Linked DNA regions of Homo sapiens. The protein of the gene in region 2 purifies or fractionates together with the protein of the main gene of each other region. This does not show direct contact. Each region holds a gene or a part of one and is shown on either strand. Other genes may lie near its edges. The genes, in order: NOL6, IKZF5, RPL36AL and CHD8.

Region 1 (7,745 bases), on a different chromosome or scaffold from region 2:
TCTACTTTTGACACAACAGCCGGAGTAAATTTTTCTAAAACTAAACTTTTTAAGGCTGGAAAAGTGAACGTTTTAGGCTGGGCACGGTGGCTCACACCTGTAATCCCAGCACTTTGGAAGGCCAAGGAGAGCAAATTACCTGAGGTCAGGAGTTCAAAACTAACCTGGCCAACATGGTGAAACCCCCTCTCTACTAAAAATACCAAAAAAATTAGCCGGGTGTGATAATCCCAGCTACTCGGGAGGCTGAGGCAGGAGAATAGCTTGAACCCGAGAGGTGGAGGCTGCAGTGAACTGAGATCGCGCCATTGCACTCCAGTGTGGAGGACAAGAGCGAGACTTCGTCTCAAAAACAAAAACAAAAACGTGAACTTTTAAAAGTTAGAGGGCATCACTGTTCTGCAAAATAAAATCCAGCAGTGGCTCCCCATCTCACCCAGAGCAACAGCCAAAGTCCCTACTTCGGGACACAATGCCCTGCATGATATGCTACTTTTCCCCATCACCTTTCTGAACTCATCTCCTTCTGTATTCCTCATTCATTCCAAGGAATGTAACTGGAACATTCCTGCCTTTGTGCCTTTGTACTGGCTGTTCCCCCTTCCTGGAATGCTTTTATTCCCTTAGATATCTATATAGCTGACTCACCTACTTCAAGTCTTTACACAAATGTCACTTCAATAAGGCCTACTTTGTGAACACCCCCTTTAAACTTGTAAACCACTCCCATCCTCTAATACTCCCAATCCCCTTACATTGCTCGTCCTACTTTTTCCTTTTTCCAGTGTTTACCACATTCTAACATTGCCATAGAGTTTACCTGTTATGCTTATCTATTAACTATAACCTCAGCATTACAGCATAGGCTATTATTTACTGATATATCCTAAGAACACAAATACTGCAAGGCATGGAAGTACTTGCTGAATGAATACACAAATGACCACGCTCCCAGCTAAGCTTCCTTGCTGTGAGAATGAGCTCCCTGCACCCCAACCCTTAAACAGAGTAACAGCAAGGCCCCTGTTTGATATACCCCCACTGGAGGTCTCTCTTGGGCTTCCCAGTTCCCCAGGCCACTTGCTTACCTCTGTCTCAGGGACTGAGGGCACCCTCACAACCCGCTGGTTGACCTCCCGTAGGAAGGCATCAATCCGATCCTTCTTCTTCTCTGACAGCCTTACTTCCTTTAGTAGCTCCTCTACCTGTAAGAGAGGGTAGAAGACAGTCCATCAGCCTCAGGGTCCCAGGTACACACCTCGAACAAAAGCTGCAGACACTCAACAGTACCTGTAAACGAAGCAAGCTGGAGTGGAACAAGATCTCAGTCTCCCGAAGGCGATTAAGCTCCTCATTGGTAGGCTCCTTGTACAGTTCTGCCCTGCTGAGCTTCACTGGCTGCAGGAGGCCCTTCGCTGGAGGTTCAGCCAATGTACGCTTCCTGGAGGATGCTTTCTTCCCCTCTTTGCCTGTGCCTTCCAGGGCTGGTTCCATCACCTGTGGCCAGTGAGGGAGAAGCCATTTTGAGGTAATAGGTATCTAGCATCTGCTGCCTAAAGTGCCACCATGATAGGTTGTGGGTAAAAGCTTCACCTGCTCTGTCCCTCTTTTGAGTAGGAGTCAGATTTTGTAAAACTCAGGAGAATCGTTACTTGGATGAACATCACTGAGCGCTGAGCCGAAAATTCCTTGAGTTAAGAGCTCTCCTGTCTACCTGACACCACAAGCATGGAGCTCTGTTTGGAATTGGTAGTGATAGAAGCTGACTGGGCCCAGGCTGGACACGGTGGCTGACGCCTGTAATCCCAGCAGTTTGGGAGGTGGAGCTGGGCGGATCAGCTGAAGTCAGGAGTTCGAAATCAGCCTGGCCAACATGGGGAAACTCCGTCTCTATTAAAAATACAAAAATTAGCCAGGTGTGGTGGCACATGCCTGTAATCTCAGCTACGCGGGAGACTGAGGCAGGAAAATCACTTGAACCCAGGAGGCAGAGGCTGAAGTGAGCCGAGATCGTGCCATTGCATTCTAGCCTGGGCAACAGAGCAAGACTGTCAAAAAAAAAAAAAAAAAAAAGAAGCTGACTGAGCCCTGCCCTAAGTAATGCCCAGGCCCCTTGTATTTTCAGGAAGTTTCCTCTTCTGCTGATATAGGCCTGGGACTTCTCAAATGTCTTTCCCATTCTCGCTCCAACCAAATCCTGCCAGGTTCCACCTCCTCTAGGAAGACCTGACTGCCTCAGTTTACACTAAATACTCACTGATGGAAGGAGCTAGAACCGACTGGACCCCAGAGGACACATTTAGCAAGTCATTAAATCCTCAAAATAATTCTTGAAGACACTTGAAGTCCCACTATTCACTCGAGGTTCCACAACTGGTACACCCGTACTATGAGCAGGCTTCAAAGGCAAGCGTGCAGGATCCCAAACCTTTTCCCCTACAGCCGTGGGCCCATCCGCTCCACGATGCCTCTCATCCCAGAGAGCCTTACTGGAGCGCTCCAGGAGAGGCACCGTATGCCCTCCGCTACAGCGGGGAGCACAGAACTGGACACAAATTCTGTGGAGGAAGATCCCGCTTATCGTCAAGGACCACCAAATAAAAGAAACGACCCAAGTGTGGGTCTCTTCAACTTTGAGGTGCAGAGCTCCAGAAGAGAGCAGAGGCTCTACCGGCTTCACTGCTTCTAACCAAATACTGCCAGGTTCCATCACCCCTAGCAAGCCCTGTCTCAGTGCCACTGGCTGGAAACATCCTCCAGAATGGGCCGCCGGCATGGCTTTCACCCGCAAGCTGTCAGATCACGCCATCTCGGGCCCTGCAGCCAAGGGAGCGCACATTGAGCCTCTGTTCCTCCCCGATGGCTCAACCCACCTCTGGCTCTCCAGTCGCTCCGCGAAGCTGCTCTCCAGCTGGCGCCGGCCCCATCACTCAGGGTCCAGCACTCTCCCGCACTTCAGATTCTAGCCGGGTCTATACCTCATAGCTTCCCACGTGGGCGGAAATGCCTAACTCCAGGCCCAAGTCCAGCCCACCCCAATTCCTCAGGACTCCACCCACTCCAGAGCTATTGGATTATCAGTCGATTACTCGCTTGCCATTGGCCGGGCAGTCTCAAGGCCCGCCCATTAGGGGAGGGGACAAACGGGTTTCTGTGCTTTACGGCCTCTTCGCGACGCTAGAACGGAAGCCTGCCCGTAGCTAGGCCTTTGCTTTCTTTTCCTCACTTCCTTCGCGTGGCTGCAATCGGGAAGGGCGGAGCTAGTTTGTTCCTTTTGGTCAGGTTTGTTTACAGCAGTTATTCCTCCCTTTTTCTTTATTTGCTACACCTTATCAGTTAACAAATCTTGTCAGTTCTACCTCCAAAACATACCTTGAATTTATTCATTTTTCTGTGTCTTCACTGCCAGGTTTAGCCCGTCACATCATCTTGTTCCCGAATTATTGTTATGACTTTTCTCCAGTTTTTACTTATTACTTAGCTTATTACAATTTCAAGTAATTTAGTTATTTTTATTTATTTATTTATTTATTTATTTATTTATTTATTTATTTATTTTTGGAGTAGTCTTGCTCTGTCGCCCAGGCTGGAGTGCAGTGGCACGATCTCAGCTCCCTGCATCCTCCCTCTCCCAGGCTCAAGCGATTCTCGTGCCTCAGCCTCCTGAGGAGCTGGGATTACAGGCAGGTACCATCACACCCGTCTAATTTTTGTATTTTCACTAGAGATGGGGTTTCCTCATGTTGCCTAGGCTGGTCTCAAACTCCTGACTGCCAGTGACCCGCCCACCTTGGCCTCCCGAAATGCTGGGATTACAGGCCTGAGCCACTGCTCCCGGCCTATTTTTAAACTATTAAAAATTTAAAACAAATGTTGCAAGAATAATATAATGAATGCGCATATACTCTTCACCTAGATTCACTTAGTGTTACTATTTTGCCAAGTTTATCTTTACCTATGTATTTACATATTATTTTGCAAAACCATTTGAAAACCAATCACACATCTCCCTAAATACTTAGGTATGTATCTACTAAGATCAAGGACTACCTCTTATGTAAGCACAGCCCGATTATGAAATTAAGGAAATTTAATCGTGATTCAATACTAGTATACAAATTCCATCTTTAAATTTTGTCAGTTATTCCAGTAATAACCGTTATATGTTTCATTTTATTTCCTAATGCAGGATCATCTAAATTCAACTATTACCATATAATATATATATATATATATATATATATATATATATATATATTTTTTTTTTTTTTTTTTTTTTTTTTTTTTGAGAGAGAGTGAGTGTCCCTCTGTTGCCCAGGCTAGAGTGCAGTGGGTCGATCTCAGCTTACTGCAACATCCACCTCCTGGTTCAATTGATTATTGTGGCTCAGCTTCCCAAGTAGCTGGGATTACAGGCATGCGCCAACACACCAGGCCAATTTTTGTATTTTTAGTAGAGACAGAGTTTCACCATGATGGCCAGCCTGATCTCAAACTCTGGCCTCAAGTGATCTGCCCTCCTCAGTCTCCCAAAATGCTGGGATTACAGGGGTGAGCCACCGTGCCCAGTCTAAAAATTTGTATTGAAGTACAATATACATAAGGAAAAATGTACATATCCCAAGTGTAAAGCTTGAATACTAACAAACCAAACATACTCATATAGTCAGCTCCCAGAAAATAAGCAGAACATTTCCTGCACCTTCAGAATCTCCCCTCATGCTGCCCTCTAGTAACTCTGCCCCCAACAATCACTATTCTGACTTCAAACAGTGCAGGTCAGTTTATACAATAGCTTTTTTATTATTTATTATTTATTTATTTATTTATTTTTTGAGACAGAGTCTCACTCTGTCGCCCAGGCCGGAGTGCAGTGGCACGATCTCGGCTCACTGCAAGCTCCACCTCCCGGGTTCAAGTGATTCTCCTGCCTCAGCCTGCCAAGTAGCTGGGACTACAGGCGCCCGCCACCACGCCCGGCTAATTTTTTGTATTTTTTAGTAGAGACGGGGTTTCACCGTGTTAGCCAGGATGGTCTTGATCTCCTGACCTCATGATCCACCCGCCTTGGCCTCTGAAAGTGCTAGGATTACAGGCGTGAGCCACCGCGCCCGGCTATGCGATAGCTTTTTAAGGAAGTTTCAGAAGAGCGGTATGTCCATTTTCAATTCATTTTCCACACAGCTGCCAGAATTAGTTTTCTAAAATAGAAATTCTATCATGTCACTTCCTTTTAAAAACTCATCAGTGTCTTCCAATTGTACTTAAAACTAAACACAAACTTCAACTTCCATAAAGTCATGATCAATATGGCCCTTCACTTGCTATTCCTTCTTTTTATTTTATTTTATTTTTTTTTTTTTGCGACAGAGTCTTGCTCTGTCACCCAGGCTGGAGTGCAGAGGTGCAATCTTAGATCACTGCAACCTCCGCCTCCCAGATTCAAGCGATTCTCTTGCCTCAGCCTCCCTAGTAGAGTAGCTGGGACTACAGGCACATGCCACCACACCCGGCTAATTTTTGTATTTTTAGTAAAGACAAGGTTTCACCATGTTGGCTAGGCTGGTCTCAAACTCCTGACCTCAAGTGATCCGCTCACCTCAGCCTCCAAAAGTGCTGGGATTACAGGGGTGAGCCACCTTGCCCAGCTATTCCATCTTTTTTGTGGGAGAAGAGGGGCAAGTTCTCGCTCTGTTGCCTAGGCTAGAATACAGTGGTGGAATCACACCTCAGCCTCCTGAGTAATTGAGACTACACACGCGCACCACCATGCCTGGCTAATTTCTGTATTTCTGTGTAGACTTTTGCCATGTTGCCCAGGCTGGTTTCAAACTCCTGAGCGCAAGGAATCTGCCGGCCTCGGCCTTCGAAAATGCTGGGATTACAGGCATCGGCCACTGCCTGGCCCTCATCATTTTTCTTGCTACTCCACCCCTGGTTCCCTGAGCTACAGCAACATCAGCTTTCTTTCAGTTCCTTCGTTGTATTAAGTTCTTTCCTAACTCCGGGACTTCACCCAAGCTGTTTGTTCCATTTGGAATTTTGCTTTCTTGGCTTTTTCTCCTTTTCATCTTTCACCTCTCAGCATAAATATCACCTCTGGACTCAAACCATCCTCCCACCCCAGCTTCCTGGCTAGCTGGGACCACAGGCGTGCACCACACACTCGACTAATTTTTTGTAGAGACAGGATTTCACCATGTTGCCCAGGCTGGTCTCAAATTCCTGGACTCAAGTGATCCTCCCACCTTGGCCTCCCGAAGTGCTAGGATTACAGGCTTGAGCCACTGTGCCCGGCCAAGGTCTTAACTAAAGTCCTAAAATATGTTCTCTAAACAAATATAGATATGTTTTCTTTCTTTTTTTTTTTTTTTTTTTGAGATGGAGTCTTTCTCTGTCACGCAGGCTGCAGTGCAGTGGCAAGATCTCAGCTTACTGCAACTTCCACCTCCCAAGTTTAAGTGATTCTCCTGCCTCAGCCTCTGGAGTAGCTGGGATGACAGCCACATACCACCACACCTGGCTAATTTTTGCATTTTTAGTAGAGTAGGCCACCATGTTGGCCAGACTGGTCTTGAACCCCTGTCCTCAAGTGATCTGCCCTCCTCTGCCTCCCAGAGTACTGGGATTACAGGCGTGAGCCACCACGCCCAGGCTGTTATGTTTTCTCTTTCTTTCTCCCTCCCTCCCTCCCACCCTCCTTCCTTTATTTTCTTTTTTCTTTTTTTTTTTTTTTTTTTTTTCTGAGACAGAGTGTTGCCCTGTCGCCCAGGCTGGAGTGCAGTGGCAAGATCTCAGCTTACTGCAACCTCTTCCACCTCCGGGGTTCAAGCAATTCTCATGCCTCAGCCTCCCGAGTAGCTGGGACTACAGGTGCACACCACCTCGCCTGGCTAATTTTTTGTATTTTAGTAGAGACAGGGTTTCACCATGTTCCCCAGGCTGGTCTTGGACTCCGAACTCAGGCAATCAGCCCACCTTAACCTCCCCAAGTGCTAGGATAACAGGCGTGACCGACCACGCCCGGCCTGGCCAATATGTTTTCTAAAACGTTTCTCTTATATCATCCATTTTCCTTTTAGTGCTTTTTACAATTTCTGGTTATCAATTGTCTCTCCTTTTGTTTTACTTTTATTTATAAATTTATTACTATTTTTTTAGAGACAGGATCTCACTGTCACCCAGGCTGCAGTGCAGTTGTAGCTCACTGCAGCTTGGGATACCTGGGCTCAAGTGATCCTCCCAAGTAGCTAGGACTACAGGTATATGCCACCATGCCCAGCTAATTTTTAAATATTTGGTAGTGGTCTTGACCTCAGAATCTCAAACAATCCTCCCTCATCAGCCTCCCAAAGCACTGGGATTATAAGCATGAGCCACTTGCCCAGCCCAGTTGTCTCTTTTTGCCCTTGACTGTGAATACGTGAAAATGAGGACCATGTGTACATGCCCAATACCTAGCACATTGTAGGTACTTAATAAATGTTTACTGAATGATTGTGACCATAGTCAATCCTTTCCGTCTTTCCTTTAACCATTGTCTCCCTCAAATTTTATGCCCCAGTTGCATTGAACTATTTGGGAGTTTTCTTACTCTAATTTGATTTATTTCCTGGGCCTTTGACCTTGCTGCTCTCTTTGCTCAGAATGTTTTGATTGATAAGATTTACTGGAGAAATGGAGCTTGTGCTAAGTGTTGAAGCATGGTTTGAATTTGAATTGACAGAGGGGAAGAAGCAGCATCA
Region 2 (7,023 bases):
GCACCTTCACAACATCCATGGTCAGTTGTTAGAAAAAAATGCATTTGACAGAATACAGAGTTAATAAGCTGGTTTTAACAAGGGAGTTCTCTTTGTTTCATGAAAATTTTCATTTTCTATTTTGGGGTACTGCTTTTATCTGAAGAATAAAAATGGGAAAAAATAACCACAAAAACTTCCAAATGACAACCTGTTTCTTTCTGGCAACTGATAAATACTAAAGCCAAGTTACACACTTGGAAACTACTGCAGTAAAATGGATCTGAGCAGTCTGTGATTTAAACAACAATGTAACAGAATTGTAGAATTTTAAAGTACAAGATTTGACAAAGAAGAGAGTTCCAGTTTGGAGAAAGTGTCCTTGATGCTGCTCTTTAAACAATGCAGTAGCTTAGACTGGATGCTAAACTGCAAGAACTCATTACAGTGGCTTTCTAGCATCTGAAAGGGAAAGCAGAGATTCCATTAACTTGGCACTTGGGGGTTTTGTGGGTACATACCACCAATATTTCCCTTTCCTTTACTATTAGAGTTCTTTTTTGGTTAATAGATGCTTACTATTCTCTTTAAGATGCCAATTAGGGGCACATTCAACATATGAACAAAATTAAAAATAGAATTTTTGCAAAGTACACAGAAAAGAAACCAAGTTAGTAACAATGTATTTTATTGTTTGACCAAGCTCTCTTCAGAGTACGTGAGTTATTACACAATATAAAAACAATAGCCTCCTATTCAAAATGAATTACTCTATATTTAGTAAGTCTTATTTTTATAAACAAATTAAATGTCATGTTTAGATGCATTTTATATTCACTTCCACACCTTTTTATCCTTTCTTACTAAAGCGATGATTTAGTTTCTACACAGTTTCGTCACTGTACATGAAGACTGGTAAAACTGCAAATAAGAATTACAATTTGAAGTCACAGAAAATATTTTAAATGGCTAATTCTGAAGAGGAGACAAGAATCCATTTTGGACATGTTCTCAGTTTTGTAAATATGACTTCACTATCACATTCTCTCATGTGTTTCCATACCCACCTTTTCTTGGAAATTATGGGCAGAAAATGGATAGAAGGAAGGAAAAGGAATCTTGAGAAATTTGTTTGGAGGCTGCATTTTAATAATAAGGATGACTTCACTTTATCTCTTTGGTCATCAAAGGAATAGGAAGAATAAGAGATTCTCATTATAGTTATCCACCTCACCTAACAGTAATGATATCAGAATGAAGGATTTAAATGAAAGTCAAACTGACAGGGGAAAAAGGCATCTAGCACTCTAGTGTATTTACCTGTGAAAATAAAAATCCAGTGGAAAACTGACATGTGTTTAGACATTGAATAAACAAGTTATTTTAAATATTAAAAGAATTTTCAATTTCAAGTCTTAACTGTTTTACATTTCCTCTTGTGGAAAAAAGAAAATTTTTACTAAACTGAAATAGCTTTACTATTATCAGTTGAAATGAAACTACCGATTCAACTTAAGGAATGTGAACTAAATGATATTTCAATTAATAGCAATTTTTAAGGCAATTTCTGTACTAAACACTGAAATGAGTAGTAATAAATTCTGTAATTTATTCTACCATTTTGAAATATGGCAGAAATAACATCCAGTTCAATGCATATTGAAACATCAAAAGTATGGATAAGCCTTGAAGTTTTTATGGACCATAAATGTGAGAAATTCAAATGAACATCTTGTAAGATTATGACTGCACTCCAATTCTCCAATGTCGAAAGGAAAGGAAAAAAGAGACACCAATGTGTCTAACTGTTCTAATATATAAATGACCCTGACCAGATTTTTATGAAAAAAAGGGGAAATTTTATTCCACTGACAAATTTATATTCTATAAATATAATGTATAAGCCTTGAATTAGCAGACACTTTATTAGGGATGACCAAAACAAAAAACAAAAAAAACCAAACCACAAAAACAGCAAAACTAAGTAAAATATGACTATTTTCAATCAATGTTGGTTATGTTGCCCTCTTGCAAAATGACAGGCAAAATCATACTTGTTTTTACATTTGCATCCACATATATTACACTGAAAAGGATTTTCATACCCATGACATCCCATATGAATAGTGTAAAGGATGTTGTCTGCAAAGTACATATCACAGTGCTGGCAGTGGTGCAGAAGCTGAGGGTCCTGGACCGGCAGGGCTGGGGCTGGGGTGCTTGGCTGGCTGTTTCCTATGCTGGGAGTGCTCGTGTGGGCACTTGGCTCACTGCTTGGACCTGCCACTGGACTATAGTTCCTTTGACTATGGGATGGCCGAGGTTCTGGGCTTGTGGGAGAGGAGCTCTGAGGAATACTTGCTGATACGGCAGAAACTACTGCTTGGGTAGAGGGCTGCTGAATCATGAAAGGCTTTTCATCAGGGCAGGGAACTACATCAGGGGATGCAGGGTTTTGGTTTTCGGGTGGCAGACTGGACAACTGCCCTGCTAGAGTCGAGAGCTGATTCAAAGGGTTATCAACCATGAGTTCTTGGGGGTCCCTTGGAAGGCCACCAGTTGGTGTGGTTTTTGCCATACTTTCATAGGAGTCAGTCTGGATATTTGGGATTTCGTGGGTAAAATCGTTAAGGTAGTCTGGTTTCTGAACCACCATGGAAGGTGGACTTAAGTTGATTAGTGCTCTTCTGCTATAGCCCAGATTGCTTGTTTTCTTCTGTAAAACCCCCCACATTTTCTTGCTGCTTAAGGAAGACCTAGTACCTTTAATTGGTACCATTTTATGCTTGCGCCTTCGATGATGGGACAAGTTACTTCGATCACTGCAGCGGAAGGAACATAATTCACATTTGTATGGTTTTTCTCCAGTATGAGAACGCATATGGGCTTCCAGATGACGCTCATAAGCAGATGCAAATGGACAAAGATGACATCGATGAGGTTTTTCACCTGTTTCAAAAGAAAAATGATGGAGAAACTACAAGAGTAGTTCATTTATGGAAAGTTTTGCTTGTCCATTCATTGGACAACTGGAAATTGATCAAAAAGAAAATGCTTTCAGAAAGTCATATTTGCATAGCATATGAGATTGTTAAAATTTGTAAATAAACCCACAAATTGAAATAAAGCTTAAGAACTCATCAGCAACAACCTGAAATATGCATTGATGTTGTATTAGTCAATACAGTATAAAAACTGTTATGGCTTCGAATGCATTTAGAGAGAAGAAACAGTACAATTGAAATATTCTAGTAATAGTCTTACATAATAATGAGTTTATCAAAAGTATGTCTCAGTTATATATTCATGTATACATTTATATACATTCATATTCACACACACACATATGCATACCCTTTGCTCACAGAAAAAAAAATACAAAAAAAGCTTTTTTTAAAGTCCTTATATGAAATAGAAAGCTCAGAATTGAAATGGGCTTGCTAGTCTGAGTTATGCAAAGCATCCCTTCAAAATTGCTAGTGCTTCTCCTCCATCTTCCTACTCTTCAGCTGCCAGAAGGAACAACTATAGTTAATGTTGTTAACTGAAGACTGCCCAATTATGTGAAATAAACATTTGGAATATGAGATTTAGAGTCATTCATCTAGTAAGTATGTGTCACATGCCCTCCTAGGCTCTGGGGGTACAAAGATGGTCTTGTCACAATTGCCCTGTCCTCAAGAGGCTCTCAGGCTACAATGATGTGATGAATGAGCACAGGATGCATGAAGCACACAGGAAGGACGTCTGACCTGGTCTTGGGCAGAGGGCAGATGTAGTTGGGAAAGTTTCTCAGAAGGGACAGCTAAAGTGAGATCTGGGATTAGCAGTACCATCTGCAACTGTATACTTTCTGAAACCTTTCCCCCTTTCGGCAAATGAAACGTAATAGGATAAAGATTAAAACATTTTATCACATCGCAGTGCTTTAGCATTATTCCTTCCCAATCTGAGAGGCAGGCAGATGTTGAGAGATTATTTGGATCAAGAGGGAAACACGGCTAAGGAAGGAGAGGATCTACAAAGGGCATCACTTCTGACCTGTTTGTATGTTGTTATGTTGTTGCTTTGAAAAATGGAGTAACTTTCCCATTTATTCGAACTTTACATAAACCTTCATTTTTGAATATTAAAACTATTTCTATGACAAACCAACCTGCCCCCCTTGGCCCCTCTCCTGCCCTCACAGAAATGCTTTTTCCAGCTGTCTTTCCATTACCTGTGTGGATTCTGATGTGTTCAATAAGCCGGGCTGTTCCTTTGCTGGCATAGTTGCAGTACCGACACTTAAGCTTCCCATCAAAGGTCCTTTCAAACCCGTCTACTAACATTCCTGAGTTTTCATCCAAGGAAACTTCAACAGATGGGTGATCAAGTCCATTTTGATCACCATCTGTTCCAGCTATAAACAAAGTACCGCAAAAGAAATTATGCATCTCAGAATCAACTCAATTTAGCATTTCAGTTTTAAGTGGTTGAAAAATCTTATAAATTGACAGTTCACTTCTCACAAAAGTTAAGTCCATTTTATAACAGACTTTCTGAACTGAGGCTAATTTTATACAAAAGCAGTAATACATTCTGTATTATATTCTGAGAACCTTTTATTGGGGGATCTCAAATTATTTACACAAGGCCAGTGCAGTGGCTCATACCTGTAATCCCAGAACTTTGGGAGGCAGAGGTGGGGGGATAGCTTGAGGCCAGGAGTTAGAGACCAGCCTAGCCAACATGGCAAAACCCTGTCTCTACTTAAAAAAAAAAAAAAAAATTACAAAAATTAGCTGGGCATGGTGGTGCACACCTGTAGTCCCAGCTACTCAGGAGGCTGAGGCATGAGAATCGCTGGAATCCAGGAGGCAGAGGTTGCAGTGAGCCAAGATTGTGCCACTGTACTCCAGCCTGGGCGACAGAGCAAGACTGTGTCTCAAAAACAAAGAAAACAAAATTACTTACACACACATTGTACTGGTCCTTAACATGTTTTTGAAGAAGTGAACAGGTGAGGAGGGAGGGGAATAAAGAGATTCACTGGAGAGTGATGGCACAGTTACACACAGGTGTTTAGCACCCTCGCTATTTCTACAACTGAAACTGGCAGTCAAAGAATCTCCAAAACCCTAACTCTATTTATTTTAGTCTGAAGCAGTGAATAAGTTTTCCACATCCCAGTGTTTATATGTACGTTCTAGATCTCTGTTCCATTTAGGATCTTAAAATTCTAATTAAGCCCATAAAGGAAAGTATCGTCCCTGATACCTCTGAAGGTTAAGGTTTTAAGAATCTCAGAGATAAAACATGTTTGGCTGTTTGCTTTTAATCTAATCTGACTACTTTTTTGTAGAAAGAAACTGAAGAGACCTGATGCTCATAATCAGGAAAATCGGCAAATGGCTGGGACTACAACCCTGGTCTCTTGAATCCTGTTTGGAAATCTGTGCGTTAGGAGGGAAATTTCCATTCCTACAGCTTCATGGGAAAAGGTCTACTCCATTTCAGGAGGTAACAGTCCTGGCATGCACAATTCAAGCCCCCTGCTTCACCGGTTCCTCACTCCTCACTAGGAGAAGTGATTCTGCTGGTTGAGACAAGACCAATATCCAAGAGGGCTACACTGCATTCGAGGGACAAGGCTCAGTGTCTTCCTCTCTCCCACTGCTTTCCCAAGCCAGTCACTATCACATTTTAATGTGTATGTGAATTACTTGGGGGATCTTATTAAAACACAGATTATAATTCAGTAGATCTGGGGTGGTGTCTGGTGTTTTGTATTTTTAACAAGCTCCCGGGTGATGCCTGGTCCCTGCTGCTAGTCCCTGCATTATAAGGCCGTACCCAGACTATCTAGGTCAGGGGTCAGCAAACTTTTTCTATAGGCATGAAATAGTAAATACTTCAGGCTTTGTGGGCCATATGGTCTCTACCACAACTGCTCAACTCTGCTGTTTTAGCAAAACAAACAAAAACAGCTACAGAAAATATGTAAACAAATGAGCATATCTGTGTTCCAATTAAATTTTACTTATGTGGACTCAAGTTTGAACTTCACAGAATTTTCATGTATCATTACATTATTCTCCTTTTGACACTTTTAAAACCATCTTTAAATGTAAAAACCATTCTTAGCTTGCAGGCCATACAAAAACAGCAGTCCAGATGGGGCCCACGGGCTATAGTTTGCTGACCTCCGAGCTAGGTTAGGAATAAATTCCAGTTTTTTGTGGCAAGCAAATTAGACAAAATTTACCTCTAGCAGGCTCAAGGAGGTCACCACTTTCTCTATTTTCATTTCTCTTCTTGGATAGGTAAACATGGTCAGCCCTTTCTTCATTTTAAGAGAGAAGAAACTGAAACCCCTATTTTTATCTCAGGTCGAATCCAGATTTCCTGATGGCCTAATGGTTTGTATAGTGAAGCTGATATTCCAATCCCCTTTGGGTTCTTTGTGTCTAATGGTAGCTCATAAAAACTGGAGGACAGGAAGGGTATTTGGAGCCCCTAACCTTCCAACAAGACCATAATGCATCTCCAGACCATGTTAAGTACTCTCCAGCAGAAGTCTGATATGTTTAAAAAAGGGGGAAAAAATGCCCTGTATCTTTCTAGAAAAAACAGAATGATTCACATTAATGCGCAGTGGTCTTCACAGTAACAGCTACACGCAATCATAGTACGTGTATAAAAAGTGAATTACTTAGTAGTATTAAAATGAGTCTACCTCCCTGAAGAGCCTCTGCTTCTTTGTCCCCACTAACTGATCCAGAAATCATGTTCACGTGATGGGTCTGCTGAGTCAGGTATTCCTGAAAATCTTTCACGAAGTCCAAAGGCTCTGGTTTTTTTTCACCCATCTTTGCTTTTTTAACATTTACAGTTTGTTAGACCTAGAAAACAAAACTGAAACAATTTTACACTATTTAGGGAGATCTAGTACATAGCAAACAAATGACAAAAGCTATTTTGTGCAAGACACTATATAAAGCAAGAGAAAACACAGTGCCTGCCTTTCAGCATCTTATAATCTTACTGGTGAACTAAAGACAT
Region 3 (7,364 bases), on a different chromosome or scaffold from region 2:
TACTCCAAGGCTAAGGCAGGACCTACAGAGCTACAGAGCCTGAGAGGCCACAGTAAGCCATGAATGTGCCACTGCACTCCAGTGCGGGTTACAGTGACAGATTGTCTCAAAAAAAAATTTTTTTTTGAGTACCTCCCAGAGTGTTCTAAGAGGTTCAAAAAACAGTTTATGCTATCTTGGACTTTCACTAGATTGAGAACTTTAGTGTGAAGTCAATTTTGAACTATCCTTTTATATTCAAGGCCACAGTCTCTAACAGTACTGTCCAAAAGAACTTTCTGCGGTGGAAATGTTTTACATCTGTGTTGTCCAATAAACTAGCCACACGTGGCTGTTGAGTACTAAATCTGACTAGTGTAACAGGAAACACATTACCTGGCTAGCGGCCCCTACTAGACAGAATATTTGGTCAGCTCTTACTATCCCCCAACTTCCATCCTTTGCCCAACCCAGCCTGCTATACACAAGCCTAGCGTTATCTTGTTCCTTCTCTTGCAAAATCTTAAAGATCCTTCTAAGCTGCTCAATGTTTATGAATTCATTCAACATTTGAAATTGACCAGAAAACAAAAAGTAGTAAAGTAGTATTTTCCCTTCATACATATATAAACTTGTTAGTAAAGTTTGAGGTGGGACTACACTAAACATGGAATTCTATTTATAAGTAAAAACCACAAAAAGTTTGCGTAAGAATATCACTGTATTTATTTTCCCTCGGGTAACTTTTCTATGGCTTCACCATTTTCTCTTCAAAATTGAAGAAAAATATCCCAAAGTTTAGAACTGGATCACTTGGCCCTTTCTCTTCTTATCTCCTCCCAGTTCAAAATGCTTGCATCTCTTAATGGCCAGCATCCTCTTGGATCTGCAGTTAGGCTCAACACATTCCAGCCTTAGCACAATCTTCTTTGTGGTCTTAGCCTTCTTCCGGAAAATTGGCTTTGTCTGCCCACCATAGCCACTCTGCTTCCGATCATAGCGCCTCCTTCCCTGGGCATACAAAGAATCCTTGCCCTTCTTATACTGTGTCACTTTGTGAGGCTGATGCTTGCCACACTTCTTACAGAAGGTTCTTCGGGTTTTAGGTACGTTGACCATCTTTGCAGCAGGGCTGTTTTGTCTATATGATGAAAACTGTAGTAAAATATTTAAAATAAGATAGCAGACGTTAAACATTCCGAAAAGTGAAAGTGCTATACAAGTATATACAGGAAAACCGTACACATAAATGAGTAATATATAAATCCACCACGTACTCTTTTTCCATATGAATAAACGCACATACAAGTACATACCTTTTTGAAACACTTCGTTTAAATTACTGGAGGACTAATTTGTCGACCTAAAGAACTGAGGCAAGGCCGAGCACGGTGGCTCATGCTTGTAATCCCAGCACTTTGGGAGGCCGAGAAGGGCGGATCACCTGAGGTCCGGAGTTCGAGACCAGCCTGACCAACATGGAGAAACCCCGTCTCTACTAAAAATACAAAATTAGCCTGGCGTGGTGGTGGTGCATACCTGTAAGGAGAATCGCTTGGGCGGGGTGGGGAGGGGCGGAGGTTGCCGTGAGCCGAGATCGCACCATTGCACTCCAGCCTGGGCAACAACAGCGGAATTACGTCTCAAAAAAAAAAAAGAACTGAGGCACAATTCATATAAGTAGAATGTTTATTTGGGGCAAGTTTGAGGATTGCAACCCAGAGCACAGATTCAAAATGCCCTGAGTAGCAGCAGTTGCAAGTGGGTTTTTAGAGGAAAAAATGGCAGTTCCTAAATTGTCTACCAAGAATTTACATTAAAATAACACAAGCGATTGATTGGCTATACATCATTCTTTTCATGACAAATTCCAGGAACGCGGACATAATGGGTGAAGCAGCTAGTCAGGAATAAAATGCCAGGCATTAAGTGGGGAGGTGTCTGAAGTCCCATACTGCTGTCTCTCTGGGCCCGGCAAATTTTGCACATCTCAAATAATTAACAATGCTCCGAGCCATTCTTCTTTTCTCATATAGAACAAGACTCACGAAAACCGACAGCAGCAGCTTTAGGAGGCCCAATACAGTCCGTTTTCCGTACGAAATGAGTTTAATTTATTGTGACTGCTCCAAAAGAAAAGTGCGGTTCATCTAATTTTCTTCCGAAAAGGAAGTTAAGGACCAGAGTTTCTTTGACCCCCTTCCCCCCACCCACCTCCTCCATTTTCCAGCTCTAGAGAATGGCTGGGGCAGCGCGCGACGTTGTAGCTACGGTTACGACCCGCCCCGTTCCTTCTACGAGAACCACATCAGCGTAGTATCACTTTTCCCCTCCGAAGCACAGTCACCCGTCAGCAGCCTCGAGGGCTGACGTGTCCTTATCAAGCCGGCGCGCCCCGCGATTCTATAGCCGCCATGCCTGAGACCTTTTTCCTGAAGGGAGAAGCCTGCTCTCGAACTAAGGCCGGCGAGGGCCATAGGTCTCGCCTTCCCTTTCCTAAGAAGGCCTAGTCCTACCCAGGATTCTGAGCAAGGGAGGCTCCTATTGGAGCCGCTACAGCCTCGTTCTTAGCTTACCGAGAAACAGCGCCCGACACCTGGCCCTTCGCAGCTCTCGCCTTTCGCAGCTCTCGCCTAACAGGAAAGGGAAGAAACAGGCGGAAGTGGGAACTGCACCTGAGCGACAGTACTGCAAACCAATAGGCAGCCGGCCACGGCGGTCAGGCGCCTTCGGTCGCGTCTGGAAAGCACCAACCAACGGTCTAAGGGGCGGGCCGGAGGGGTGTGGGCCGGAGGGCCGCGGTGTGCCGCGGGGCAGTTGCGGGTTGTCATAACGGTCCCCGCCGGAGTGAGGCGAGGCCGCGTCGCTCAGTTCTGGCCGTCTAGGGCCCCTGTAAGGATGAGAGCGCAGAGGACGCAGGGCCGCTGGAGGCGCAGGTAACGAAGCTAGGGTGCGGTTGGGACCGCGGCTGAGCTTTTTCCGGGACCCGTGGTGCTGAATGGAGAGGACGGAGACGAAGCCGAGCCGCGGCTCCTAGCGGCGGCGCCGATGCTCGAGCTGTAGCTGCCAGGCGAGGATGTGTGGAGCGCAGGCGGCGCGGGGTAAATGAGAGGTCTCGGGCCCCAGGACCCCCGGGGCCCGGGATGAGTTAGCGAGGGCAGCCGCGGGGGCCAGTTCCGACCGTGACAGGCCAAGGCGACGGCCGCCGCCCGCCCGCCCCTTCCGTGCAGAAGCAGCTGCTCCTTTCCGCGCCCGCCCGCCTGCGCTCCCGGCCCTGGAGACCATGAGGTTCCGCATCTACAAACGGAAGGTGCTAATCCTGACGCTCGTGGTGGCCGCCTGCGGCTTCGTCCTCTGGAGCAGCAATGGGCGACAAAGGAAGAACGAGGCCCTCGCCCCACCGTTGCTGGACGCCGAACCCGCGCGGGGTGCCGGCGGCCGCGGTGGGGACCACCCCTCTGTGGCTGTGGGCATCCGCAGGGTCTCCAACGTGTCGGCGGCTTCCCTGGTCCCGGCGGTCCCCCAGCCCGAGGCGGACAACCTGACGCTGCGGTACCGGTCCCTGGTGTACCAGCTGAACTTTGATCAGACCCTGAGGAATGTAGATAAGGCTGGCACCTGGGCCCCCCGGGAGCTGGTGCTGGTGGTCCAGGTGCATAACCGGCCCGAATACCTCAGACTGCTGCTGGACTCACTTCGAAAAGCCCAGGGAATTGACAACGTCCTCGTCATCTTTAGCCATGACTTCTGGTCGACCGAGATCAATCAGCTGATCGCCGGGGTGAATTTCTGTCCGGTTCTGCAGGTGTTCTTTCCTTTCAGCATTCAGTTGTACCCTAACGAGTTTCCAGGTAGTGACCCTAGAGATTGTCCCAGAGACCTGCCGAAGAATGCCGCTTTGAAATTGGGGTGCATCAATGCTGAGTATCCCGACTCCTTCGGCCATTATAGAGAGGCCAAATTCTCCCAGACCAAACATCACTGGTGGTGGAAGCTGCATTTTGTGTGGGAAAGAGTGAAAATTCTTCGAGATTATGCTGGCCTTATACTTTTCCTAGAAGAGGATCACTACTTAGCCCCAGACTTTTACCATGTCTTCAAAAAGATGTGGAAACTGAAGCAGCAAGAGTGCCCTGAATGTGATGTTCTCTCCCTGGGGACCTATAGTGCCAGTCGCAGTTTCTATGGCATGGCTGACAAGGTAGATGTGAAAACTTGGAAATCCACAGAGCACAATATGGGTCTAGCCTTGACCCGGAATGCCTATCAGAAGCTGATCGAGTGCACAGACACTTTCTGTACTTATGATGATTATAACTGGGACTGGACTCTTCAATACTTGACTGTATCTTGTCTTCCAAAATTCTGGAAAGTGCTGGTTCCTCAAATTCCTAGGATCTTTCATGCTGGAGACTGTGGTATGCATCACAAGAAAACCTGTAGACCATCCACTCAGAGTGCCCAAATTGAGTCACTCTTAAATAATAACAAACAATACATGTTTCCAGAAACTCTAACTATCAGTGAAAAGTTTACTGTGGTAGCCATTTCCCCACCTAGAAAAAATGGAGGGTGGGGAGATATTAGGGACCATGAACTCTGTAAAAGTTATAGAAGACTGCAGTGAAAATCACAGTTACAAAAGCGACAGTCTTCTATTTTTGATATTTGTCCAAACAGGACATACAATTGAATAAAAGAGTTTAGGAACTGGTTTCTGCTTTAATACAAAAACAAAATCTTGTAAAAGGTGTCCAAATACATAGTAATCTTTTCCAGTTATGTCTGATTAAGATTTAAAACTGAAGGTTTCATTTTGGGAGTAGGGTTTTAAAGCTCAATCTGTTATCTGCTAAAATTGATTATTGTTGATATGAGAGAAGAGGGGAAATTTTATTTAAATTGCATTTATTAATCTTTTTATCTGAAACTTTGTACACTTTTCCACTTTCAAAACCTATTTTAAGTACAGCAAAATTTATTTAAAACTGTCATAGCAGTAAAAAGTATTACGATGAAATTGTTAGGGTATTAATGGAACAAACCCAGTTTCACTCTCTTGACACACTTATTAGGAAGGGATTGCTTCACTGGTTTAATAATTTAAAAGTTATGTTTGTTAAACACCCTGTCAGAACAGTCATTTTCAGTATTAGATTCCTGTACTATTGTGTTTTGAGTGTGTTTTGGAACCTTCATAGAACACACTTTCTTTTGGAATGTATTTGATTGATAAGAAAGTTTAAACATTGTTTTCACCTCAATGTAGAAATACAGTGGTTTTGTTTTTTTTTTTCTTTTAGTGCTGACAAAATAAAATACTCATTTTTGCATAAAAAGGTTCCTAATCCTTTTGCAGAATAAGTTTTGTTTACTCTTTATACCAAAATTCAGTGAAGGCATTCTACAAGTTTTGAGTTAGCATTACATTTTAATATTTACTATTGCTACATTGTATAATTGAGTTTGAAATAAAACCCAGCTTATGACAATGCATTCCCTGTGCAAGAAACTGTTTGGCTTTCAAATTACCCAGGCATTGAAAATGAATGATAAAAAGTTGCTGTGTAAGGGAAATACAGCCTAAATTGTTTTTGAAAGCCAGAAATGATACAAAGTTCAGTCATGCCAAAGTGAAATACTTTCTAGTGCCAGCTTTAACTTAAATCATACGTTTTAAAAGGACAGATACAGAAAATTATAGGAAACAGGCTTAAATTTTGCTCCATATTTAATGTAGACGTTTATAGAAGTTTCCCTTAATTTGTAATTGCATTCAACCGAGAATTTCTCATAAAAGACTAATTTCTGTGTAAAGATATTACGGGCTGGGTGTGGTGGCTCATGTCTGTAATCCCAGCACTCTGGGAGGTTGAGGCAGGCAGATTGCTTGAACTCAAGAGTTTGAGACCAGCCTGGGCAACATGGCGAAAACCCATCTCTACTAAAAATACAAAAAATTAGCCGGGTGTAGTGGTGCATCTGTAGTCCCAGCTACTTGAGAGGCTGAGGTGGGAGGATCCTTTGAGTCTCGAGGCAGAGGTTGCAGTGAGCCTAGAGCGTGCCACTGCACGCCAGCCTGAGCAACAGAGCAAGGCTCCATCTAAAGAAAAAAAAAAAAAGTTACTTAAACTTGTAACTATTAAATGGCAGTCTCAAAATTATTGCATCAATTTAAGATTCATAGTAGTTTAAGAGCACATATGCTTATCTAAGGTGAGGCAAATAGTTCTCTTGCTTTACGAGCTACCTTTAGACTTACCCACGGCCCAGTCTGGTGCAAGATTTTGCCTGGGGGTTATAAATAAGGGTGAATCAGGAGGCTTTGTACCTATTTCTGGTACTCTGACCTGACATCACTAGTTCAAAGAACTAAAAAATTAGGTTATTTCCAGGACTGAGCTAAGAAGGCCAGAGTGTGAAGTAGTAGCTGTTTTTGAAACAAATAGATCAGCTCCTGGCTTTGGGGTTAGTGATTAAATCAACAAATATTTCCCTTTCTGTATTTCCTTCCTTTCATTTTCTTTGGCTGCCCTAAAATTTTTTGTAAGAAAAAAACCTGTTAGGATCTTCTCTTTGCCTCACATTTTAGGTGTTATAAAGGAAATTGATTATGCAGGAGGCTGAGATGAGAGGATCACTTGAGCCTAAGAGTTTGAATCCAGTCTGGACAACATAGCAAGACCCATCTCTTAAAAAAAAAGAAAGTGATTAGGAAACACTGGCTTTTTTTTGTTTTTCTGTGTAATAATGTAATGAAGGCAATTTTCCTATCAGAGCAAATTGCCAGATTTTAAAAATTCCAGTTTTACTCTTAAATTTCTATAAAACCACAAGATGTTTTAATATTTCAATAACTTCTAAGAAATACTTCAAAATTGAATTTTGAAAATCATTACTAAATAACTAAATCTATTATATATACTTTATGTAACAAAAATATATATAGTTTGTGTGACAAAATATAGAGCTGATGAAAAGTACTACATTTTATCTGGTGAATTTGTATCGTAATTGTTTAGATTAATATTGGTTAGTAAAGTTCTTTCCCCTCTAAGCTCTATTTCAAGCTTAAATATGTCCTACTTAGTGAGACTGAGAAACAGTTTTGAAATTCTACCCCCCACACATGTACTTATAATTCCAGTTAAATGCATTCTTGAGAATTACTTTGTGTGACAAACACAATTAGTGAATATTTTTAAATTTTATTAATGACAAAGCAAAATTTAACACAGAAGTATATATACATAGGTTGTATTAAAACTAAATGTTTTAACTCTCAAATGTTTTAACTCTCAAATAGAAAACATACACATCTATTACAGGAATCACAAAACTTATCTCCATAAGGAAACTTTAAACTCCAGAGGCAAAAAAAAAAA
Region 4 (7,023 bases), on a different chromosome or scaffold from region 2:
CGCTTTTTTGTTTTTATTACTGTGTTCTTCTGAGCAGACAGGTGGCATAAACGATTTGCAATGAATAAATAACCCAATTTCCTTTGAGGGTCCTACACTAGGCAAACTGAGGGTGTGATCGTCAAAGAGAAATTTCTCAGTCATGATGGAATGGGGAGGTATTCATTAAGCCAACTGTTTCACATGCCCCTCAGATCTTCATGTGAGAAGTTTTGTTAAACTCACTGGCACCCAAACCAGGGCAACACTGCCCTACCTGGTGGCTCAGTATTAGCATGGCAACTCATCATTGGGACATGTTTTCAGGCAAAATAAGTACCTTTATGTGTCAGGTACCATTGGGAGATGATAAACCAGGGCTGAAAGCGCCTAAGGCTCTTCCACAGAAGCAACGTATGAGAGCTGCTGGCTGTTATCTTTCAAGAGACCAGTTATCCTCTCAGCTACTGTAGCTGTACAGAAGAGTGTTGTAAACCAAACCAAATAGAACATCAAATAAGCCATTTACAAGTGACATTCATTTTCACCCTCAGATGTATCTTATGGCAACATGTGGTTTATGCAGTTTATGGAGTCCTTTCTGCTGGTCCTATTTTTGCTAAGGATCTATCACTTTTGAGTATAATTACAATTAAGAATCCCATTGGGTTCAGTCAAGGCTAGAGTTATTTCACGGCACAAGTTAGAGTTTTAAAAGAACAAATACTAATGCTTACCCTTCTACTATGTCAGAGAAGTTATCCAACACTCGATGTTCTGCTGCAATTGCTTTGTCATCTGGTCGGCCAGCCTTTTCTAGGAAACATAAGGCTGGGTCTGCCCTCATGGTATTATATTTCTCATAGCCTAGAAGAAAAAGGGTCATAGTTGAAGAAAATGAGATTTGTTTTGCCTTTATGCTTACTTTATATGCTGCTGGAATAATTAGAATATGTTCTATATTGCTCATAATGGAAAACAAAGTTAGAATGTTATCTTGGACAACTACTGGGTTTATTACTATATTTAACATTTTTATAGCAATTTAGAATCATGAAGAGTTTTTAACTAGTGACTGATAGCCTTAGGCTCCCAAAGTGTTGGGATTCCAGGTGTAAGCCACCATGCCTTGCCTGCAGTTTTATTTATTTTTATTTATTTATTTATTTTTTGAGATGGAGTCTCACTCTGTCGCCCAGGCTGGAGTGCAGTGGTGCGATCTTGGCTCACTGCAAGCTCTGCCTTCCAGGTTCACGCCATTCTCCTGCCTCAGCCTCCTGAGTAGCTGGGACTACAGGTGCCCACCACCACGCCCAGCTAATTTTTTATATTTTTTAGTAGAGCCGGCGTTTCACCGTGTTAGCCAGGATAGTCTCAATCTCCTGATCTGCACACCTTGGCCACCCAAAGTGCTGGGATTACAGGCATAAGCCACCATGCCCAGCACCTGCAATTTTATTTATCCCATTAAACGTCTCAAAAAAGATGTAGATTAAGTGCCATTACTTTTATTTTATAGAAAAAAAAGTATTCTTTTAAAAAAAAGACATTCTAATTCACAAAGTCACTTGGCTGAAAGTTAACGCTTACTGTTTTTAGTGCCTGGGATTTGGCATTAGGCAAAACTGCTATAAGAGTAAGGAAATATTCTTACCCCCACTGCATTTTTGTTTTGGCTAGTCAGTCTCCCTTCTTATACTCTACTTTTATTTCACTCAAAAACTGCTGCCTCATACCTATATCAGAGAGACTGCTGAACATTTAGACAAATGGGACATGTAGAAAAACAGAAGATTTTCAGCTCTTTCTCTTTAGTGAGGCAGCCAAGCTGACATAGAGATGCAGATCTCTGTAAAGACCCTCACAGGCAAAACCATCACCCTTGAGGTCCAGCCGAGTGACACCAGTGAAAATGTCAAAGCCAAGATCCACGACAAGGAGGGCATCCCACCTGACCAGCAGCATCTGATATTTGTGAACAAACAGTTGGAGGATGGCCGTACTCTTTCAGACTGTAACATCCAGAAAGAGTCCACCCTGCAGGTGGTGCTTTGCCTCTGAGGTGACATTATTGAGCCTTCCCTCTGCCTACTCACCCAGAAATACAACTGCGACAAGATGATCTGCTGCAATTGTTATGCTAGTGCACATCCAGAGGAAAGTCATATAAATTAAGTGTGATTATTATTAACAATAGTTGGGGTATATTACCTGCCCTGATTCATGGGACCCTAACTTACCATAGCATACAGTGCGGTAACACACTGCTAACAGTGATTAGAGAACAGATGGGAGGCTCCCTACCTTGAGATTTACCTATCCATCTGGCCCTTCTTGAACATCTATTTATAGGAACTAACTGCTCTGCTCTGGATATTTAAGAACTACTTTCCTACTCAAATTTATTGAAGATCAATCAGATAACTGAGTTATTTCTCAGGAGCATTTTGCTAAATGTTCCATCCGTGAACATAAATCTTCAGTCGGAAAGGAGTAGAATAGGAGAAGATACGTACCATGTTTAAAGACTCCAATGAGCAGCGACTTGTCAGCCTCACTGTCCCACCAAGTTGTTGGAACCTCCAGTTGATCCACTACTGGGAACCATATGTCAATCTCACTAAAGGTATAAGAGGGCAGAGTCAGCACAGAAATGCAGGAAATTAAAGTGAGAATCCTTGCAAAGGTTATTATAGGTATCTTCCTGTATCCATTAATTTAAATACTCATGCATCTACCCTATTTCCTCCCACTAGTGTCAAGTATAAGATTAAAGACCTGATATATAGATTTAAATTATCAGGTATCCCAAAGATAGCATAAAATGAAATAAGCAAACCAATCTTCCCTCAAATAAGGTAGGGCATAAATCAAAAAAATATAGCAGAATTTTACCTGGCAATCGCACCCCCTAACACCTTTTCTGCTTGGTCTCCAATAACCTCCTGCCTCAGGTAGTATAGCATTCGTACCCGCAACAGTACCCTAGAAAGGACAGAGGAAGAGCTGGCTCAGTAACACTGTAGAAGTTTGAGGTGGAAAATGTCTGCTAATTCTATGCTTACTTGTTACACTGATGTTTCAAGTGCTTCTTATAACTTTCATCTTGGAACAAAGTGTCAGGGTTATATTTCCGGATCCAATCTGCCTTATGGATATCAAAAGTGCTTTGTGACTTTACTTTTTTTCCTTTGCGTCCACGAGGCACAGGGATAGATAGACCTGGGAAAGGGGAGACATCAAAGACTTGGATTGAGAAAAACCCTTGGACCTGAAAAGGATTAGATTAACCTATAGAAAAACATAAAGTAAAGAGTTGATAATTACCTGAATGATTCTGCAATTCTTTTGTCTTGCCATTTTCAGCTGGGCTAATCAAGTCCCAGATGAAGCCTTTAATATTTTCATCCCCACGGTAGTGTAGAAGACAGTACACGAGAATGGCCCGACAAATGGTCTCCACATCTCGTTCAGTCATACGTCGCTTGAAGCGTCCATGAGATAAAATATCTCGCCATCGTCCCCAACTAAAAAACAGAAAACTATATTAACATTTTTCTGAGAAATGACAGTCCCCTGTCCCTCAGAATCATGTCTCTGAAAAGGTGTGAAACAAAGATCTTAAAAAACATGGTAACAGAATAAACAGAACAAACTCCCTCCAAGGCAAATATTTTTTCACATTATCCCTTCTTTGATCATAGCCCCCAATTTGAAAGGCAAACCAAGAGTATCTATCAGGATGGAGATGCACTATGCACTACCTCTAATGGTAAGTTGGGGTCTTACCCATATACCAGGAGATGCTTTTCCACCCGAAAGCAGTCAGTGCGCCCATAGGCATGATGACGGTCATGTCTGCGGGAGCGTGGCCGCTCATCATCCTCACTTTCCAAATCAGAGAATTCCACCAGGTCATCATCTTTCAGAGTGCTAAAGTGGCGCGTTTGTTTTCGTACTCTAGGTGTGTCAATTACCAAATTATTCTATGAAGAGAACAGAAGGAGAAGTAATTCTCTTCCTGATTTGCTCATGGGAAAAGAATAAGACAATTAGGGATTACAATAACATTGGATGTAACGTGTAGATACTCAGAGATTTTTTTAAATGACATGTAAAATAATCTACAGAAAGCAAAATTATTCAGAAAGCAACTACTTTTCTGGGGCCTCCTAGGTAGAAAGTATCCACAACAGCCCTTGTATACAATACACCATCATAAATCACAATTAGCATCAAATAATCAGAGTAGCTGTAAAGACTCCCGAAAGTAGTGTGGTCTTCTGCGATACTTCCTCCCTAAAAGAAGAAACTCACCTTGCTGTTGAGCAGATCCATGTCTAGGTCAGCCTTTTTGGCCCACTTTTGCCAAAAGTTGGGGTCATCCAAAGAAATATCTGTCCTGTTTTCAGAAGCAACAAAGCTTGCCTAGAGAAAAACAAATGCAGAGGTAAAGCTGACTTTTTTTTTTAAGTGGTGCAAAATCAGCAATTATGTTTTAAAAACATTTTTTTTTTGAGACACAGTCTTGCTCTGTTGCCCAGGCTGGGGTACAGTGGCACGATCTCCGCTCACCGCAACCTCCACCCCCTGGGTTCAAGTGATTCTCCTGCCTCAGCCTCCCGAGTAGCTGGGACGACAGGCGCAAGCCACCATTCCTGGCTAATTTTTGTATTTTTGGTAGAGATGAGGTTTCACCATGTTGGGCAGGCTGGGTCTCGAACTCCTGACCTCAAGTGATCTGCCCGCCTCAGCCTCCCAAAGTGCTGGGAATATAGGCATGAGCCACCATCCCCAGCATAAAAACATAATTAAATCCTAGAGATTCCGGTCTCTGTGTTTTTCTAGCCTCTGGCATAGACAGAACATGCCTTAGCAAAGGTGGAACCTTTTCCTTCAGATTCAATGGTGATGGTTGTAGTTCGTCTTAACAAGATCTGGTCAATGTCCTCTTCACAAAACTTGGAGCCTTCATCATCTTCCTCCATGATGGCTGCATATGCTCCTTTTCTTAAAAGATCTTCAATCTCCTTCTTAGAGAACTGTTGGATCTGTAAAAACCAATAGAAAGATGAAAAGACTATCAAGAGAATAATATCTAACCATGCCATAATATTTTAGCTATTATATTTTAAGAAATAATAATTGAGAATCCAAACAAGGTAGTCAAATCCCTGTGTACAAATAGCTTTTGTTTCCCTCTATCACAATGATCTACTACAAACTTATCTATAAACTAAGAGGACTCACTCCAGTAATGTTGCCATCCCGACCACTCATGGATTGAAGCACAGCCTTATCCAACCCCAACTTGAGGCTGGCCTTATCAAACATCTCTCTCTCGTAGGAATTACGAGTGATGAGGCGGTACACCTTCACAGCTTTGCTCTGCCCAATTCGATGACATCGTGCCTGGGCCTGGTTTAAAATAAAAACGAAAGGAAAGGAGAAAGATATCATAAAATTAGCAAGGGAAAGGATACAAAATACCAATTTATGATTCTTTCACCTCTATAGAGCAGCCATGAGATCAACTCAAAACCAAGAGTCAATTTCAAGATGAAATTATCACCCCATCATGTAGACCAGGGGTCAGCAAACTAAAGTCTGTGTGGACATCTGTTTTTAAAAATAAAGTTCAATGGGGACACAGGTGGGACCACCCACTCATTTACATATTATCTATGGCTGTTTTTGCGCTACAGGACTTGGAGATAAGCAGTTGCAACAAAGACTCGATGGCTCACAAAGCCTAAAACATTTACTGTCTTGTCGTTTACAGAAAACGTTTGCTGATTCCCTGACCTAACTGCCACCCTTAACTAAGGAAACAATTCCAAACTCTGTGAAAGGTCTTTCTAAAAGATCCTATTCTTGTTGAAAAATCTCCCAAGTTAGGTAGTTAGTCCCTAAGACAATGAATTCCTTTACCTGCAGGTCATTTTGTGGATTCCAGTCTGAATCAAAGATGATGCAGGTATCAGCAGCTGTAAGATTAATACCAAGTCCACCAGCCCGGGTACACAGTAAGAAGACAAAGCGGTCTGAGTCAGGCTTGCTGAAGCGGTCAATGGCAGCCTGTCGAAGGTTGCCTCTAACTCGCCCATCAATACGTTCATATAAGTACCTGTATGGGAATCGCAGAAAAAAAATGTAAGTGGCTAAGCAGAAGTGGAGACCAAAACAGCAGGCTAGGATCAATACCAGTACTCCCATATCAAAGCTGGTCAAAAACCCAAGTTGAGAGTGAGAATCTTAAAAACTTCTCTTATTGCAATTGGTGAACTCTAATTAAATCCAGGCCCTCCTACTTTTTGCTGCTTTATGAGGACAGAGTAACCACAGGCTAGGATGACTCTTTTCTTACCTCCTCTGGATTAAATAATCCTCTAGGATGTCTAGGCAGCGCACCATCTGAGAGAAGATCAGAACTTTATGGCCACCAGCTTTAAGCTTTGGAAGCAACTTGTCAATAAGAACCAGTTTGCCGGCTGAACGAACCATGGCCTGCAGGTGAAAGTCATGAGGTATAATATGGCAAGCTTCACGGAATTCTGTTAGGATTTTTTCTTCAGCACCTGCCAAAAGAAAAATCAAATTATGTTGAGATCCAGTGAACCATATTAAGGTTGTAGTCTATTTAACTAAGAAAGCAAAAGGAAAAAAATGTAATTTGACTTAAGACCAACATTTCTCACACACAGAATTTCAGCACAAAAAAGTCTTAAATCGGCTGGGTACGGTGGCTCATGCCTGTAATCCCAACACTTTGGGAGGCCGAGGCAGGTGGATCACTTGAGGTCAGGAGTTCGAGACCAGTCTGGCCAACATGGTGAAACCCCGTCTCTACTAACAATACAAAAATTAGCCAGGTGTGGTGGCGGAGGCCTGTAGTTCCAGCTACTCAGGAGGCTGAGGCAGGAGAATCGCTTGAATTCGGGAGGTGGTGGTTGCAGTGAGCTGAGATTGCGCCACTGCACTCCAGCCTGGGTGACAGAGCGAGACTCCACCTTAAAAAAAAAAAAAAATCAGCCGGGTTCAGTG

What was found.
Region 1: the proteins of IKZF5 (region 2) and NOL6 purify together in Homo sapiens (affinity purification with mass spectrometry; 2 studies listed by BioGRID and IntAct, with this or other methods). This does not show direct contact.
Region 3: the proteins of IKZF5 (region 2) and RPL36AL purify together in Homo sapiens (affinity purification with mass spectrometry; 2 studies listed by BioGRID and IntAct, with this or other methods). This does not show direct contact.
Region 4: the proteins of IKZF5 (region 2) and CHD8 purify together in Homo sapiens (co-immunoprecipitation; 3 studies listed by BioGRID and IntAct, with this or other methods). This does not show direct contact.

What each region holds. Positions count from the first base shown.
Region 1 is NC_000009.12:33,470,916-33,478,660, forward strand, and holds the start of NOL6 (nucleolar protein 6), read right to left. Parts: upstream 3,010-7,745; 5' UTR 2,928-3,009; coding exon 2,874-2,927; intron 1,823-2,873; exon of another isoform or gene 1,594-1,822; intron 1,498-1,593; coding exon 1,291-1,497; intron 1,206-1,290; coding exon 1,089-1,205; intron 1-1,088. UniProt on the Homo sapiens protein: Part of the small subunit (SSU) processome, first precursor of the small eukaryotic ribosomal subunit.
Region 2 is NC_000010.11:122,991,796-122,998,818, forward strand, and holds part of IKZF5 (zinc finger protein Pegasus), read right to left. Parts: intron 6,877-7,023; 5' UTR 6,831-6,876; coding exon 6,698-6,830; exon of another isoform or gene 6,227-6,697; intron 4,382-6,226; coding exon 4,199-4,381; intron 2,929-4,198; coding exon 1,985-2,928; 3' UTR 1-1,984. UniProt on the Homo sapiens protein: Transcriptional repressor that binds the core 5'GNNTGTNG-3' DNA consensus sequence. Involved in megakaryocyte differentiation.
Region 3 is NC_000014.9:49,618,007-49,625,370, forward strand, and holds RPL36AL (ribosomal protein eL42-like), read right to left. Parts: upstream 2,621-7,364; 5' UTR 2,556-2,620; intron 1,135-2,555; 5' UTR 1,099-1,134; coding exon 778-1,098; 3' UTR 524-777; downstream 1-523. Other genes in the region: MGAT2 (alpha-1,6-mannosyl-glycoprotein 2-beta-N-acetylglucosaminyltransferase precursor), read left to right, coding at 3,263-4,606.
Region 4 is NC_000014.9:21,397,107-21,404,129, forward strand, and holds part of CHD8 (chromodomain-helicase-DNA-binding protein 8), read right to left. Parts: intron 6,558-7,023; coding exon 6,347-6,557; intron 6,107-6,346; coding exon 5,911-6,106; intron 5,398-5,910; coding exon 5,230-5,397; intron 5,031-5,229; coding exon 4,851-5,030; intron 4,408-4,850; coding exon 4,297-4,407; intron 3,966-4,296; coding exon 3,769-3,965; intron 3,507-3,768; coding exon 3,307-3,506; intron 3,202-3,306; coding exon 3,045-3,201; intron 2,965-3,044; coding exon 2,875-2,964; intron 2,600-2,874; coding exon 2,496-2,599; intron 847-2,495; coding exon 717-846; intron 296-716; exon of another isoform or gene 187-295; intron 1-186. UniProt on the Homo sapiens protein: ATP-dependent chromatin-remodeling factor, it slides nucleosomes along DNA; nucleosome sliding requires ATP. Acts as a transcription repressor by remodeling chromatin structure and recruiting histone H1 to target genes.